Linked DNA regions of Homo sapiens: region 1 is linked to region 2. Evidence: fine-mapped expression QTL. Tissue or cell type: whole blood. Region 2 holds a variant in brackets; the other region holds the start of a gene. All regions are shown on one strand. Distances are between the middles of the regions.

What was found. PIP is the estimated chance that this variant, and not a neighbour inherited with it, causes the effect.
Region 1: it holds the start of STXBP2, and the variant in region 2 is fine-mapped to the expression of STXBP2 in whole blood (TOPMed, PIP 0.91).

Annotation. Positions count from the first base shown.
Region 1 is chr19:7,633,648-7,641,647 of GRCh38, forward strand. It overlaps STXBP2 (syntaxin binding protein 2), which reads left to right and starts at 3,463. Exons shown (of 19, transcript NM_006949.4): 1 at 3,463-3,539; 2 at 5,079-5,128; 3 at 5,372-5,453; 4 at 6,084-6,160; 5 at 7,084-7,162; 6 at 7,253-7,356. The coding sequence starts at 3,503. PCP2 (Purkinje cell protein 2) reads right to left here and starts at 72. Exons shown (of 4, transcript NM_174895.3): 1 at 1-72. RefSeq lists enhancers at 3,009-3,536, 3,537-4,065, 4,066-4,592 and a silencer at 3,281-3,570.
Region 2 is chr19:7,559,296-7,567,450 of GRCh38, forward strand. PNPLA6 (patatin like domain 6, lysophospholipase) reads left to right here. Exons shown (of 32, transcript NM_001166114.2): 29 at 1,353-1,469; 30 at 1,719-1,815; 31 at 1,913-2,022; 32 at 2,193-2,469. The coding sequence ends at 2,267. Among named protein-coding and RNA genes, the nearest start is that of PNPLA6, 28 kb to the left of the region's middle. The variant G/T (reference allele first, on the strand shown) is at 3,784.

The DNA.
Region 1 (8,000 bases), 74 kb after region 2:
CTGGATCTGGCATGGTGGGTAGGGGGCAGGGCGACCTGAGCTTGGACCTCGCTGTGCCCAGCAGCAATGACTGGACCCCAGGGACTCTCAGGTGTGATGTCACAAAAGGCCTGAGCAGCATCCCCACAGTTGGAGAAGGGAGGCCAACAGTGTAGGGTGGTAGCTGGCTTAGGGAGGACTTGCAGGTGTCCCCACCCAGCCACCCAGGTTCCCCCACTGGCTCCTGAAAGGGCAGCTGCCACCTGCAGTCGGTACAGAAAAAGGAGGTTGGAGTCAAAGGCCCCTTCCCTCCCTCCCTCTCTGCACCTGCCTCAGACACCACCGGCCACCCTAGCTCCAGCTCTGTCTCCTTGGCAGCAAGTCAAGGGGTCTCCCAGCCACCCTTCCTTCAACTCACTGTCCCTGGAGCCTGGTTGCCTGCCCCAGACCCCAAAACAAGAAAGTCTGGGGTCTCCTGTTCCCACACCACCTAAATGCCAGGTTGAGCTATCTCCTCTCCTCTATCACCCTAGCCCCAGGTGGGAACAGGAGGCGAGACTCCCTGGGGACAGAGGCAGGCGGGGAGAGGACGTCCCTGCCTTTTCCCCCGAGCCACTGTGGCTTTCCCTCAGTGCCCAAGCAGGGGATACCACTGGGAGGTCCCCATCCCCTTCCCTTCCCTCCCCAAGACGCCTTTACGGAAACCAGTGGAAGTTTCATCTCAGAATGAATGGGCTGCACTATCACCACCTCTGCCCGAGCCTCCTCTGTTCCACAAAAGGCCAAGTTCACACTCTCTCCCTCTATGCCAATGAAGTGTCCCCCTCCTCAGTACGTGTATCCCTTTCCTAGGCCTGCCAGAACAAAGTGTCATAGACCAGATGGCTTAAAACACATAAGTTGACTTTTGTTATATATTTTTATATAGAGATGAGGTCTCACTATTTTGCCCAGGCTAGTCTCAAACTCCTGGGTTCATGTGATCCTCCTGCCTGGGCCTCCCAAAGTGCTGGGATTACAGGCATGAGCCACCATGCTGAGCCTTTAAAATTTTTTTTTAACAAATTTATTGAGCCAACGTTCCAGAGGCCACAGCCTGAAATGAAGGTGTTGGCAGAGCTGTGCTCCCTCTGAAAACCAGGTCTCAGGAGCCCTCCTTGCCCCTCCCTGGCTTTTGGCAGTGGCCTGCCGTCCTTGATGTCCTTGGCTTGTCACTGCAGCTCTTCACTCCCTGCCTCCGTGGTCACATGGCATTCTCCCTCTGTGTCCCAGTCTTCATATACCCATTTCCCCACCCCCCCAACCACCTACACAGAACCAGGCAGACATATAACTATCTTACAAGGACACCAGTGATATTGCATTAGGGGCCTACTCTACTCCAGTGTGACCTCATGCTCACTGCTAATATCTATACTAACCCCATTTCAAATAAGATCCTATTGTGGGGTATTGGGGATTAGTACTTCATATCTTTTGGGGGTTAGTGGTGGGGTGGCTGGCCCTAACAGCTCTCTGTCCCCCCAAGGGGTCAGGCTGAGAAGCTGGAGGCGGTCCTGGCTTCCATCCCCCCAGGATCTGGAGGGTTCCCCGCCTTCCCCTGCTCAAAACTCTTGAGAAGACAAAACCCAAACACCTAGGGGTTGTGGAAATGTTCTAAAATGGATTGTGGTAATGGACACACAACTCCAAAAATACTGAAAGCCATTGACTTACGCACCTTAGGTCAGCGAGTTGTATGGTATGTGAATTATATCTCAGTAAAGCTGTTACAAAAGGAGGAAGGGGCAGGGTGCGGTGGCTCATACCTAAAATCCTAACACTTTGGGAGGCCAAGGCAGGAGGATCCCTTGAGCCCAGGAGTTTGATACCAGCCTGGGCAACATAGGGAGATCCTGTCTCTTAACAACAACAACAAAATCAACCGGGCACGGTGGCGTGCACCTGTAGTCCCAGCTACTTGGGTGGCCGAAGTGGAAGAATCCCTTGAGCTCAGGAAGTCGAGGCTGCAGTGAGCTATGATCGTGCCACTGCCCTCCAGCCTGAGCAACAGAGCGAGACCCGTCTCTTTACAAAACAAAAACAAACAAAAATGGGGAGGAGGGAGAAGAAGGAAGAAAGGAAGGGAAAAGGAAAGGAAAGGAAGAAATAGCTCAAACTCCTACCTACGGTTGCCAACCGTCCTGGTTTGCCTGTGACTGTCCTATTTTTAGCACTGAAAGTCCTGCATCCTGGCACTGGGATGGGTCAGTCTGACCTTGTCCTACAGAAGTCTGGCCCCTGCTGCCCCCACCCTCCAGCCTTCTTAAGCTCGGGGCTCCTCCCTTCTCTACCTGGACATGCTGTGTGGCTGCTTCTAGAATCCATTTAGGGATAATGTCAAAAGGCTGCTTCTTCAGAGAGGCCCTCGGGGGTCATCCTCAGTAAAGTCCCCTCCCACCCCTACCTTCTGTGGCACTTGTTGTCACATTAGTTTATTTCCTTTAGGGCAGCATGGATCCTTTCCTATCTCCCCCAGACCTTCGGGTCTGATTCACTCCCTATGTCCCATGTAAGTGGCAGGGGGCTTGGTACCTTCATCAACACGGCCGAGCGAAGGAACCAGCTCAGACCAGCAAGAGTCTGTTTGCACACATACCTCGCACCTTAAATCGGAGACCTCATTTTGTATGGGTGCTGCTGGGGCTGTGCCTTCCAAGCGACAGGACACACAGCAGAAGCAGCTTCTGAAATTCCGAGTGTGTGTCTGTGTTTGCAAGCATTTGAGGGCGTCACTCACCCCATGTGTGTATCAGCATGTTAATTCGATTGTTGGTCCACGAGGGTAAGCGTTGCGCCTCCCGGAAGAGGGTAAGGCTGTGACAAATGCCCCCTGGGGACAGGCTCCTGGCTTGAACCCAGCAGGCTCACTCGTCGTGGCCTTGGATTAGGGATCCCGCTAAGCCTCGGTTTCCTCGTCGGCACCGCAGTCCAGGTCGGAACATTGGGCAGGACTGAATGAAAATTATGTCCAGGTGCCTGCACACAAGAGGTCTCCAGGCCTCCTGAATCCATCAAAAGTTATCCAAGACGGCTGCTGCTGCTGCTGCTGCCTCTAAACCCTGAAGTACAGAAGGCAAGTGGGTCAAGATCCCAGGCCCAGACAGTGGCGGCCCGGTGGCATCGAGTGGGTGCCGTGTATCTTGCAGGCACAGAACCTCCCGGGGAAGATGGAGGGATTATTGCCCTGCGATCCTGCTTCGCACGCAAGCCAGGAAGTGTGTGTCTGAACTCCCATCTGTGAGCGTGTCGTCGAGGTGTGCACCTCCAGCGACTTCGTGCTCGGCAGCGCGGACGCACCTGCCCGTCCTCCCCGCCAGGGACTCAACTTCCTGGGCCTGGGCGAGAACCGACGGCGGGGAGGGGCCAGGTGCGCAGGGGGCGGGGACAGGGCCCGCGGGGCGGGGTCCACGTGGGTGACGCGCGGGGCCACGCCCCCACCTTGGGACACACCCGGAAGCGGCGGCGGCGCCCCTCGGGGAAGATGGCGCCCTCGGGGCTGAAGGCGGTGGTGGGGGAAAGTGAGTGCCTCTCCGGGGCCGGGCTCTGGCGTCCGGTGTGGGACGGGGGTCGGGGACGCACGGGCTCTGGGATCCTGGGTTTCATGGCGGCTGGGAGTTGGGGGCCGGGCTGGGCGTCCGAGCACCTGACCCTCGAGGGGGCGGGCGGGGACGGGTTCCCAGCTGGACGCCCCTGCTCTCCGGTGCCAGAACAGAACAAAATTGGGGGGCCGGACTCCGGGGACCCAAAGGGGACGGGTAGAGTGTGGCGGAGGCTGGGGCCCGGACTCCTGGGCCTCCTAGGGTGCCTGCCGGGGGAGGAGGGCACAGCTGGATGCCCACACTCTAGGATCTCTTAAGCCGGGCAAAGTTCAGGGGCTGGATTCTTGGGGCCTCCTAGGGCTCTGGTCAGCGACCCTAGGTGCTGTGAGCGCTCAGGGGACGTGTCCAGGCCCCACAGGGGTGGTGTAGGGGATGTCTTCCTCCTTGCCCCATTTCCAGGAGCGCCTTGCAGCTGGAGGACGCAGGCGTCCAGGCCTCACCGGCCCCGGTTCTTGGGGGAAGGGTGGAGGGCGCCTCTTCCTCCACCCCGGGGAGTTCCGGCCTCAGCTGCTCCTTCCGCCCTGGCCGTCTTGATAACAGTGGACATGACACAGTGGACGTGGCTGGGCGGGGCCACCCCGTTACTTCTCTCCACTCTCTCCTCTAGGCAGGGCGGTCTGTAGCTCAAACCCCTTTAATTGGGGGAGATTAGAAAAAAGTGATTCCATTTTACAGATGAGGAAACTGAGACCGGAGGTCAGTGGGATAGCCTCAGCTAGGCATGCCTCAGAGCTGGGAACCAGGGGTCCTACATTTTAGACCAGGTTGGGGGGACTGGCTGAAACCCTCACAGCAGGAATACTTGAGGTAGCAGGTGGGGAAGCCGAGAGCCTGGCGCTAGAGGCAGATAGAGCTGTAGATGATCCCGGTTCTCCTCTTTTCATTCACCTAAAACATGTTTATCGAGTGGCACCTTTTGCCCCAGCACTCTGCCACTTAGACACTCAGGATGCGTAGGTGAGTTACATGTTGCCTAAGAATCTGTTTCCCTGTCTGTAAATTGGGGGTGACCCCAGAAGCCAATTTGCAGAACTGGGGGCTAAAAATAAATGATTCCTGTGCCGTGTCTCACACCTGTAATCCCAGCACTTTGGGAGGCCGAGGCAGGAGGACTGCTTGAGGCCAAAAGTTTGAGACCAGCTTGGGCAACATAGCGAGACCCCATCTATACAGAAATAAAAATAAATTAGCTGTGGGTGGTACATGCACCTGTAGTCCCAGCTACTCGGGAGGCTGAGGCAAGAGGATCGCTGGAGCCCAGGAGTTGGAGGCCGCAGTGAGTTATGATCACACCACTGCACTTTAGCCTAGGTGACAGAGTGAGATCCTCCTCTCTTAAAAAAAAAAAAAAAGTAAATGGGAATTAAGATGGGGGTTCAGCCCCAAGGCTGAGAAGGCTTGGGGCAGTGGTGGGACCAGAGAACCAGCATTCTGACCCCTCCCCTCCCTTCCCTGCAGAAATTCTGAGCGGAGTTATTCGGAGTGTCAAGAAGGATGGGGAGTGGAAGGTAGGGGTGAGGCAGATGGCTGGGTACCCAGAGGCAGCTCATCATCAGGCCTATGGGGAAGACCCTGAATGTGGGACCCCCAAGAACTGCCTGTCCACATGGGTGGAGTTGGGTGAATGGGTTCTGGGTCCTCCCACCCAGCCAGCCCTTGAAACTGCCCCTCCCACTGCCTTGGCCCCTTCTGGGGCCAGCTGTGGCCTCTTCCGCCTGCTCCTCCATCCATCTGTCCATCCATCTGGACAGGTGCTTATCATGGATCACCCAAGCATGCGCATCTTGTCTTCCTGCTGCAAAATGTCAGATATCCTGGCTGAGGGCATCACCAGTGAGTGAACGCGTCCCCAGTGAGATGGGACCTGAGCGTGGGAACCCCTGACTGTGCCCCTCTCCCAGGGTTCAGCCCTTGAGTGTAGGATCCCCTCAAATCGTCCAGAACTCCCAAGTACGCAGCTCCCTGCACGGACAGCCCGGATCATGTGACCAAATCCATTCTTAAACCTTGCAAGCTGACTGCGGGAGCCCATGGATTGCAGGCCTCCCCTGCAGCACTCCCTGGCTGCAGCCCCTTCCTGACCGTGCAGCTCCCTCGTGGAGCCCTGTGTGGGACTCCCAGGGTGGACTCTGGATGTGGGGTCCCAAGAATGCAGAGCCTTCTATGGGTGACCCCAGGTGGTGTCCCAGTCACTTTGCCATTGAGGGATAGGTGCTGAGGGAGCCTGTCCTCTCAGAACCTCAGTCTCCCTGTCTGTAAATTTGGGGAACCCAGTTGGCTGCACAACCCCTGCAGAACCCTGTCGTGTGGCTCTTAGCTGGTGGTCCCTAAGTGGGTTTCTCCTGCAGTCCCTCCTAAGCATCCACCCCTCCTCCCCAAGCCTCCAACCCCCCACACCTGAGACTCCCCACGTGGCCCTGCCTGGATGCCACCCACCTGTGTCCCTTCCTCTGTTCCTACTAGTTGTTGAAGACATCAACAAACGGCGGGAACCCATTCCCAGTCTGGAGGCCATTTATTTGCTGAGCCCCACGGAGAAGGTGCCTACATGAGTGAGCGTGTGTGTATGCGCGTGCATGCGTGTACATGTGCATGTGTGTGTATGTCTGCATGCATGTGATTGCATGTGTGCATGTGTATACGTGTGCATGTGTCCATGTGTATGTGTGTGCATGTGTGTGCATGTGTGTGTGCATCTGTGTATGCATGTGTGTGCGTGTTTGCATGTGTGTCTATGTATGTGTCTGTGTGCATGTGCATGTGTGTGCGTCTGTGTGTGCATTTGTGTGTATGTGTGTATGCGTGTGTGTCTGTGGGTCTGTGTGTGCATTTGTGTCTGTGCATGTGTGTATGCGTGTGTATGTATGTGTGTGTGCATCTGTGTGCATCTGTATGTGTGTGTGTGCGTCTGTCTGTGTGCATGTGTGTATGCGTGTGTATGTATGTGTCTGCGTCTGTGTGTGCGTCTGTGTGTATCTGTGTGTGCATGTGTGTATGCGTGTATATGTATGTGCATCTGTGTGCATGTGTCTATGTATGTGTGTGCATCTGTGTGTGCGTGTGTATGCGTGTGTGTATGCGTCTGTGCATGTGTGTATGCGTGTGTGTGCGCATCAGTGTCTGCATGTGTGTATATGTGTGTATGTATGTGTGCGCGCGCATCTGTGTGTGTGCATGTGTGTATGTATGTGTGTGCATCTCTGTGTGTGCATGTGTGTATGTGTGTGTGCATCTGTGTGTGTGTGCATGTGTGCATGCGTGTGTATGTGTGTGTGCGTGCGTGCATCTGTGTGTGTGCGCGTGTGCCCATGTGGGTGCGACACTAGTGTGCATTTGCACATATACATGTCCCCGTCCGTCCATGTTTGCACATGGTGGCAGATGGGGGGTGGCTGGGAGGCCTAGGCAGCCAATGAGCCTAGGTGTGCAGGCTCAGGCCCAGAGAGTGATCCACCTTCCCCAGTCGGTTCAGGCCCTGATCAAAGACTTCCAGGGGACCCCGACTTTCACCTACAAAGCGGCCCATATCTTCTTCACCGACAGTGAGTGAGGAGAGCCTAGGGTGTTGGTGGGTGGGGCAAGGAGGTGTGGGGGCTGCTCTGGCCTGATGCCCCACTCCTGCCTCACCCCAGCCTGCCCCGAGCCCCTGTTCAGTGAGCTAGGCCGCTCTCGTCTGGCAAAGGTGGTGAAGACGTTGAAGGAGATTCACCTTGCCTTCCTCCCCTACGAGGCCCAGGTACGGCCCGGGCTCATCCTGGGCAGGGGGTGGGGGTTTGTGACCAAATGTCCCCTGTTCCCTCAGAAACAGACACTGAGGCTGGGCGCAGTGGCTCATACCTGTAATCCCAGCGCTGTGGGAGGCCAGGGCAGGAGGATCACTTGGGGCCAGGAGTTTGAGACCAGCCTGGGTACAGAGCAAGACCCCGTCTCTTAAAAAAAGAAAAAGAAAGAAATTAGCTTGGCGTGGTGGCGTGCACCTGTAGTCCTAGCTACTCATGGGGCTGGGGTGGGAGAGTCGCTTGAGCCCGGGAGGTCGAGGCTGCAGTGAGCTATGATTGCACTGCTGCCCTCCAGCCTGGGCGACAGAGCGAGATCCTGTCTCAAAAACATACATAAAGTAAAATTTTAAAAAGGGGAGGTACCCACAGAGTCCAAGGAGCTCTTGCCTTGAGTTCTATCCCACTAGGCCCTTGCAGGGGGCAGCGTAGAGCGCACCGCGGGGTTGTCCAGCCAGCTTAAGGGACACGGGCTGGGGTATTTATCCACTGACTCCTGCAGGCATGGGTTTAGGGTTGACCTGGGCCTGCCTCCAATTCGGCAAAGCAGGCTTCAGGGACCAGGGACGGCTCCCAGGAGGTGCAGGTGGCGGCAGCGGGAAGC
Region 2 (8,155 bases):
ATTGGTGATGTCTGCAGGGGATGTAGTAGGGGTGTGGCTGTGCATGTGCTGTGTAAGAACTTTCTCCTTATAGGCCAGCTGCACCCCTGGAAGCACTGTATAGTGATTTCTACTGCCATTTCTGCATTGGTGGGAATGAGAATAGTGATGAAGCAGAAATGTCTGCCACAGTTCCAGGAGAGGGAGGTAGCAGTGCGTGTGTTATGTGCTACTGACCCTGAAAAATGTGCCATAGCCCAAGCCAATTGAAATTGATCAGGGGGCCAGGCATGGTGGCTCATGCTTGTAATCCCAGCACCTTGGGAAGCTGAGGTGGGAGGATTGCTTGAAACCAGGAGTTCAAGACCAGCCTGTGCAACATAGCAAAACCCCATCTCTACAAAGATTAAAAATAAAAAATTAGCTGGGTGTGGTTGTGCATGCCTGTCACCCCAGCTACTTAGGGGGCTGAGGTGGGAGGACCGCTCGAGCCCAGGAGTTTGAAGCTGCAGTGAGCTATGATTGCGTCACTGCACTCCAGCCTGGGTGACAGAGCAAAACTCTGTCTCTAAGAAAAAGAAAGGGCCAGGCATGGTGGCTCATGCATTTAATCCCAGCATTTTGGGAGGCCGAGGTGGGCAGATCACTTGAAGTCAGGAGTTCAAGACCAGCCTGGTCAACATGGTGAAACCTCATCTCTACTAAATATACAAAAATTAGCTGGGTGTGGTGGCACATGCCTATAGTCCCAGCTACTTGAGAGGCTGCAGCAGGAGAAATCGCTTGAACCTAGGAGGCAGTGGTTGCAGTGAGCCAAGATTGTGCCACTGCACTCCAGCCTGGGTGACAGAGTGAGACTCTGTCTCAAAAAATAATATTAATTTTAAAAATTAAAGATAAAAATAATAAAAATTTTTTTAAAAAGAAAGAAATTGATCAGTAGCTGCAGCCCAGAAGCCCTGAGTCTGAGAAGAGATGTGTGATGTCCCTTGTGGGCTCACTGGGATAGCATGCCATGAGAAATTCAAGATGTTTGCTGTGGGCTTGGGGATGGCGACATCCACAGATGTACTGCCTGTTTGCAGACTTCAAAATAAGCTCACACATCACCACCTTGTGTTATTTGCTACCCAGCACCCTGCATGGGGCTGTGTGGGAAAGAACATGGAGAGATTGATTGGTAATGTCTGTCAAGGGCAGGACAGGGGATGTGTAGGCGAGTGTGCTATGTGCAGCTGACTCTGAAATAGGTTTAGTCTCAAATGCAACTCCCCCAGAGAATCAGGCTTTTGAGGGGCCAGAGAATGGGCAGACAGAGTGGGGACAAGCAAAGCAGGGTTGCAGACATGGACCCAGCCCCTCATTTCCCACAGGATGTGGGCTACCAGTACGGGAAGGCGGTGTTTGGAGGCTGGAGCCGTGGCAACGTCATTGAGAAAATGCTCACAGACCGGCGGTCTACAGACCTTAATGAGAGCCGCCGTGCAGACGTAAGCCTGTGATGCCCCCAGGGCCACTCTGACTCCACTGATTACAGAACCCAAGCCCCCTTAAAGTCTCCCCGAAACCTCAGATGACCCCACATGTCCCTGGGTTTTGCTGAGCTCTCAGACCTCTGCTGACTTCAGAGAGTTCCCACCCTAGGATCTCCTCTGAGCCCCCAATGCACCACTGGGCCCCCCAGGGGCCCCAAGACTCTGTGGGCCCCCCCTAAGAGCCTCACCAGTGTCACCCCACAGGTGCTTGCCTTCCCAAGCTCTGGCTTCACTGACTTGGCAGAGATTGTGTCCCGGATTGAGCCCCCCACGAGCTATGTCTCTGATGGCTGTGCTGACGGTGAGGGGCCCAGGGGACCCCCCAAGAGGGAGGGGAGTGGCTGGAGATGGCAGGCCAGCCCCAATCCCCTCACCTGTGCCCTGCTCCCCGATTCCAGGAGAGGAGTCAGATTGTCTGACAGAGTATGAGGAGGACGCCGGACCCGACTGCTCGAGGGATGAAGGGGGGTCCCCCGAGGGCGCAAGCCCCAGCACTGCCTCCGAGATGGTGAGAGTGGGTGGCCCAGGGTCCCCTCACATCCCCCAGAGGGTCATGAGTACAGTGTCAGGCAGGGGAGCCGGGGGCGTATTTGAGATCCTGTGTGTGCTGGGTGCTGGCTGACATGTGACGCATCAGTGTCCCGTGCTGGGTGACGTGTGTGTGACCTTCCCTCGCAGGAGGAGGAGAAGTCGATTCTCCGGCAACGACGCTGTCTGCCCCAGGAGCCGCCCGGCTCAGCCACAGATGCCTGAGGACCTCGACAGGGGTCACCCCCTCCCTCCCACCCCTGGACTGGGCTGGGGGTGGCCCCGTGGGGGTAGCTCACTCCCCCTCCTGCTGCTATGCCTGTGACCCCCGCGGCCCACACACTGGACTGACCTGCCCTGAGCGGGGATGCAGTGTTGCACTGATGACTTGACCAGCCCCTCCCCCAATAAACTCGCCTCTTGGAAATGGCTTCCTGTCGTTTTCGGACTGGGGACCCACCTTCTGTGCTCAGGATGGCTGGGGCTGGGGTCTGACACCACCTGGTGCTTGCCCCCCACAGGGAATGCCTTTCTAGAATCCACACGGAGCCCCACTAGGTGCTTGTCCCCACTCTGCCCCTTCTCTGGCTCCTCAGAAGCCAGTGCTGACTCCGGACCACAGGGCCAGACATTCCGTGCCACCCTCCCGGGCTCACAGGTGCTCTTGGGGGCCCGATATGGCACCCCTCAATTTCTTTCTGTGTGTTTTTTGTTTTTTGTGTTTTTTTTTTTGAGATGGAGTCTCACTCTGTCACCCAGGCTGGAGGCTGGAGTGCAGTGGCATGATCTCTGCTCACTGCGACCTCCATCTCCCGGGTTCAAGCGATTCTCCTGCCTCAGCCTCCTGAGTAGCTGGGATTACAGGCGCCCGCCACCACACCCAGCTAAATTTTGTGGGGGGGTTTTTTGGTTTTGTTTTGTTTTTTGTTTTAATTTTTGAGACAGTGTCTCTCTCTGTCACCTAGGCTGGAGTGCAGTGATGCGATCTCAGCTTATTGCAGCCTCCAGCTCTTGGATTCAAGTGATTCTCATGCCTCAGCCTTCCAAGTAGCTGGGGCCACAGGCGAGCACCACCATGCCTGGCTAATTTTTGTATTTTTTGTAGAGAAGGGGTTTCACCATGTTGGCCAGTCTGGTCTCAAACTCCTGGCCTCAAGCCATCCACCTGCCTCAGCCTTCCAAAGTGCTGGGAATACAGGCATGTGCCACCACACCTGGCCTTAATTTTTGTATTTTTAGTAGAGACGGCATTTCATCACGTTGCCCAGGCTGGTCTCAAACTCCTGACCTGAAGTGATCTGCCCGCCTTGGCCTCCCAAAGTGTTGGGATTACAGGCATGAGCCTCCTTGACCGGCCAGAACGGTTTATCTTTTTTATGAGTGAATAATATCCCATTGTGTAGATGGACCACATGGTATTTATTGGTTCATCTGTTGGACGCTTGAGTTGCTTCCACCTTTTGGCTATGGGGAGTCATGCTGCTGTGAACACAGGTGTACAACTATCTGGATCCCTGCTTTCAACTTCCTTGGCTAGATGCCCGGGAGTGGAATTGTTGGGTTACATGGAGATTCTGTGTTGAATTGAAGAAACGCCAAACTTTTCCATAGCGGCTGCACCATTTTAAATTCCCACCGACTGTCAGTGCCTCGAGCTGTCAGCACCATGGACAGGGATGGTGCTGTCCGAGGTGCTACTGACGCCCCCTCTGTGTCTTTCCCTCCAAGCCCCCCCACCCCC[G/T]CCGATATCCCTGCGCCCTCCAGATCTCTGAGTTTTGAGGGTGGAGGGGGACATTTAGGGGAAAGTTCAGTCCATAGTTTGGCACCTACTGGTGTCTGTATCTTAACTGGCTCCCCTTCCATCCTGGCTCACAAGGCTCCAGTTGTACCAGCCTTCATTCTATTCCTCAAATTCTCCATCGATTCCTGGCTCAAAGCACAGAATTGGGCTTTTTACTCCCTGTGTAGCTGATTAAGCCTGTCCTCAATTGTCACCTCTTCGGACTGTGTACAGTAACTTCCCTGTTCCCGTTGGCCCCTGTCTCCTTGCCTTTAAAGCACTTCATTAGTCACAGTTGCTTCACTTGTTTTTATTGTTTTCATTGTTTATTATTACTATTATTATTATTATTATTATTATTATTATTATTATTATTATTATTATTATTTTGAGACAAGATCCCACTCTGTCACCCAGGCTGGAGTGCGGTGATGTGATCACGGCTTACTGCAGCTTTGACCTCCTGAGCTCAAGTGATCCTCCCACCTCAACCTCCCGAGTAACTGGGACTACAGGCGCGAGTCACCACATGCAGCTAGTTTTTTTTTTTTTTTTTTTGTAGATATGGGGGTCTCACCATATTGTCCAGGCTGGTCTCAAACTTCTGGGCTCAAGCGATCTACCTGTCTTGGCCTCCCAAAGTGATGGGATTACAGGTATAAAGTGTTGTTGGTGTTGTTGTTTTGTTTGTTTGTTTGTTTGTTTTTGAGACAGAGTTTCACTCTGTTGCCCAGGCTGGAGTGCAGTGGTGTCATCTCGGCTCACTGCAACCTCTGCCTCCCGGGTTCAAGCTATTCTCCTGCCTCAGCCTCCCAAGTAGCTGAGATTACAGGCAACCGCCACCACACCTGGCTAATTTTTGTATTTTTAATAGAGACGGGGTTTCACCATGTTGGCCAGGCTGGTCTCTAACTCCTGACCTCAGGTAATCTGCCTGCCTCAGCCTCCCAAAGTGCTGGGATTACAGGTGTGAGCCACCACACCCGGCCTAAAGTTTTTAATTAACTTTTTTTTTTTTAGAGACAGGATCTCACTCTGTTGCCTAGGCTGGAGTGCAGTAGTGAAGTCATAGCTCACTGCAGCTTCAACCTCCCAGGCTCAAGTGATGCTCCCACCTCAGCCTGCCAAGTAGCTGGGACTACAGGCAAGCACCACCACACCTGGATAATTTTTAAAAAAAAATTTTGGTAGAGACAAGGGTCTCGCTAGGTTGTCCAGGCTGTTCTCAAATTCCAGGGTTCAATTGATCCTTCTGCCTTGGCCATCCAAAGTGCTGGGATTACAGGCACGAGCCATCACATCAGGCCTCACTTGCTTACTTGTTTCTCATCTGTCTCTGCAAGACACACTTAAATATAAGTTCCATCACTGGAAGAACCTTGCATAGAACAGCACCTGGCTCATGGTAGGTGCTCAGTAAATGTCGAATGACATCAAGCTCCAAAGACGAAGCAAAGATCCCTGAGATAACTCCCACTCTCTCTCTTTCTCTCTGATTTTGTTTTGTTTTATTTTGAGATAGGGTCTGGCTCTGTTGCCCACCCTGGAGTGCAGTGGCGCCATCTCAGCTCACTGCAACCACGCCCAGGCTTAAACCATCCTCCCACCTCATCCTCCCTGGTAGTTGGGACCACAGGCACATGCCACCACACCTGGCTTAATTTTTGTATTTTTGATGGAGACAAGGTTTTGCCATATTGCCCAGGCTGGTCTTGAACCTGGGCTCAAGCAATCCAACTGCCTCAGCCTCCCAGAGTGCTGGGATTACAGGCGTGAGCCACCTCACCCAGCCGACAATACGTTTTTGTTGCTGAAGTCACCCCATCTGTGGAACTTTGTGACAGTGAATCCTAGCAAATTAACATAGAAGCCCTTGGCTAGACTCAGCTGCCATGATGTGGATGGTGTAATGGATCAGGCAGGACAAGTCAGGTTATGCCGCTGTAACAAATAACACCAAAGTCTTGGGGGGCAAAAACAATACAAAAGTAATTTCTGAGCTGGGTGCAGTGGCTCATGCCTATAGTCCCAGCTACTTGGGAGGCTGAGGCAGGAGGATTGCTTGAGCCCAGGAGTTTGAGACCAGCCTGGGAAACATAGCAAGACCTCATCTCTAAAAAACTTTTTAAAATCAGCTGAGCATAGTGGCATGCACCTGTAGTCTCGGCTATTTGCGAGGTCGAAGCAGGAGAATCGCTTGAGCCCAAGAATTCGAGGCTGCAGTGAGCTATGATTTCACCACTGCACTCCAGCCTGGGCGACAGAGTGAGACTGTCTCTAAAACAAAAGTAGTCACTATCTGGAATGTTTTGGGTCACTGTGACTGAGGAAAGACATCTCTGGAAGGCCTCATACCCATCATTAAATACTCTGGTCCAGAAATGATGCAATACTTTTATCTCACTGCTCATTGGCTAGAAAAAGTCACATGGTCCTACCCAACTGTAAGTGGCCAGGAAAAAACAGCCCTACCATGTGCCCAGAAGAGAGAGCATTGGAAATATTTGGTGATCATCACTAATGATCAACAGGCTGGGCTGCAGTAGCTCACGCCTGTAATCCAAGCACTTTGAGAGGCCGAGGCGAGTGGATTGCTTGAGCTCAGTAGTTCGACATCAGCCTGGGCAACATGGCAAAACCCCATCTCTATCAGAAATACAAAAAATTAGCCAGGCATGGTGGTGTGAGCCCGAAATCCCAGATCCTAGGGAGGCTGAGGTAGGAGGATCACTTGAGCCAAGGGAGGTCTAGGCTGCAGTGAGCCATGATCATGCCACTGCACTCCAGCCTGGGCAATAGGGCGAGACCCTGTCTCAAAAAATTAAAATAAAAACAAACAAAAAACAAACTATTGACTAACAGAGTTGGAACTGAGCCTCAACTGGACCTTCCTGGACTCTCTAGGCTACCCCTCTCTGGTTCCAGAGCTTGAGACTCAGCTAGCGCCAAGAAATTTTGAGGTTACAGTGAGGACCTGGGTTCAGGGTCAGGGGCCCTGTCCTGCAATCCACAGGAGCTGGCCACGAGGTGTGGACCCAAGAGACTGATAAAGTCACATTCTCAAGAGTGTTTTCTTGGTCTCTCTCTCTCTGTCTCTCTCTGTCTCTCTCTGTCTGTCTCTCTGTCTCTCTCTCCCCCTCTCCCTCTCCCTCTCCTCTTTTTCTTTCTTTCTTTGACAGAGTCTCTATCTGTCACCCAGGCTGGAGTGCAGTTGTGTGATCTCGCCTTAGCGCAACCTCCACCTCCTGGGCTCAAGTGATTCTCCCACCTCAGCTTCCTGAATAGCTGAGATTATAGGTGCATGCCACCATGCCCAGCTAATTTTCTTTTTAATTCTTAGTAGAGATGGGGTTTTGCCATGTTGGCCAAGCTGATCTTGAACTCCTGACCTCAAGAAATCTGCCTGCCTTGGCCTCCCAAAATGCTGGGATTACAGGCATGAGCCACCGCACCCAGCCTCTTGGTGTGTTTGTTGCCCAGTGTCTGGAAATGGCCATGTAGAGGTTGGACAGGGAAGAACCAACCTGGTCAGGCTGTAGGACATCTTTTGGCCACCCAGGCCAAGTGCAGTGGCTCATACTTGTAATCCCAACACTTTGGGAGGCCAAAGCAGGAGGATCGCTTGAGGCCAGGGGTTCAAGACCAGCCTGGGTGACATAGTGAGACTCTGACTCTATGAAAAATATTAAAAGTAGCTGAGTGTGAGGGTGGGCTTCTGTAGTCCCAGCTACTTGGGAAGCTGAAGTTAGAAGATCGCTTGAGCCCAGGAGTTAGAGGCTGCAGTGAGCTATAATTGCACCACTGCACTCCAGCCTGGGCAACAGAGTAAAACCTTTTATAAAAATAATATTAATAATAAGTTTAGGCCAGGCACAGTGGCTCATGCCTGTAATCTCAGTACTTTGGGAGGCCAAGGCAGGTAGGTCACTTGATGCCAGGAGTTGGAGACCAGCCTGGCCAACATGGTGAAACCCCTTCTCTACTAAAAATACAAAATAGCTGGATGTGGTGGTGCGTGCCTGTAATCCCAGCTTCTTGCGAGGCTGAGGCACGAGAATTGCTTGAACCTGGGAGGCAGAGATTACAATGAGCCGAGATCATGCCACTACGCTCCAGCCTGGGTGACAGAATAAGCCTCTATCTCAAAAAATAAATAAACAAATTAAAAAAAATAAGAGGCTGGGCATGGCGGCTCACACCTGTAATCCCAGCACTTTGGGAGGCTAAGGCAGGAGGATTGCTTGAGCCCAGGAGTTTGAGGCTGCAGTGATCTATTATCACACCACTACACTCCAGCCTGGGTGACAGAGCAAGACCCTATCTCTGAAACAAA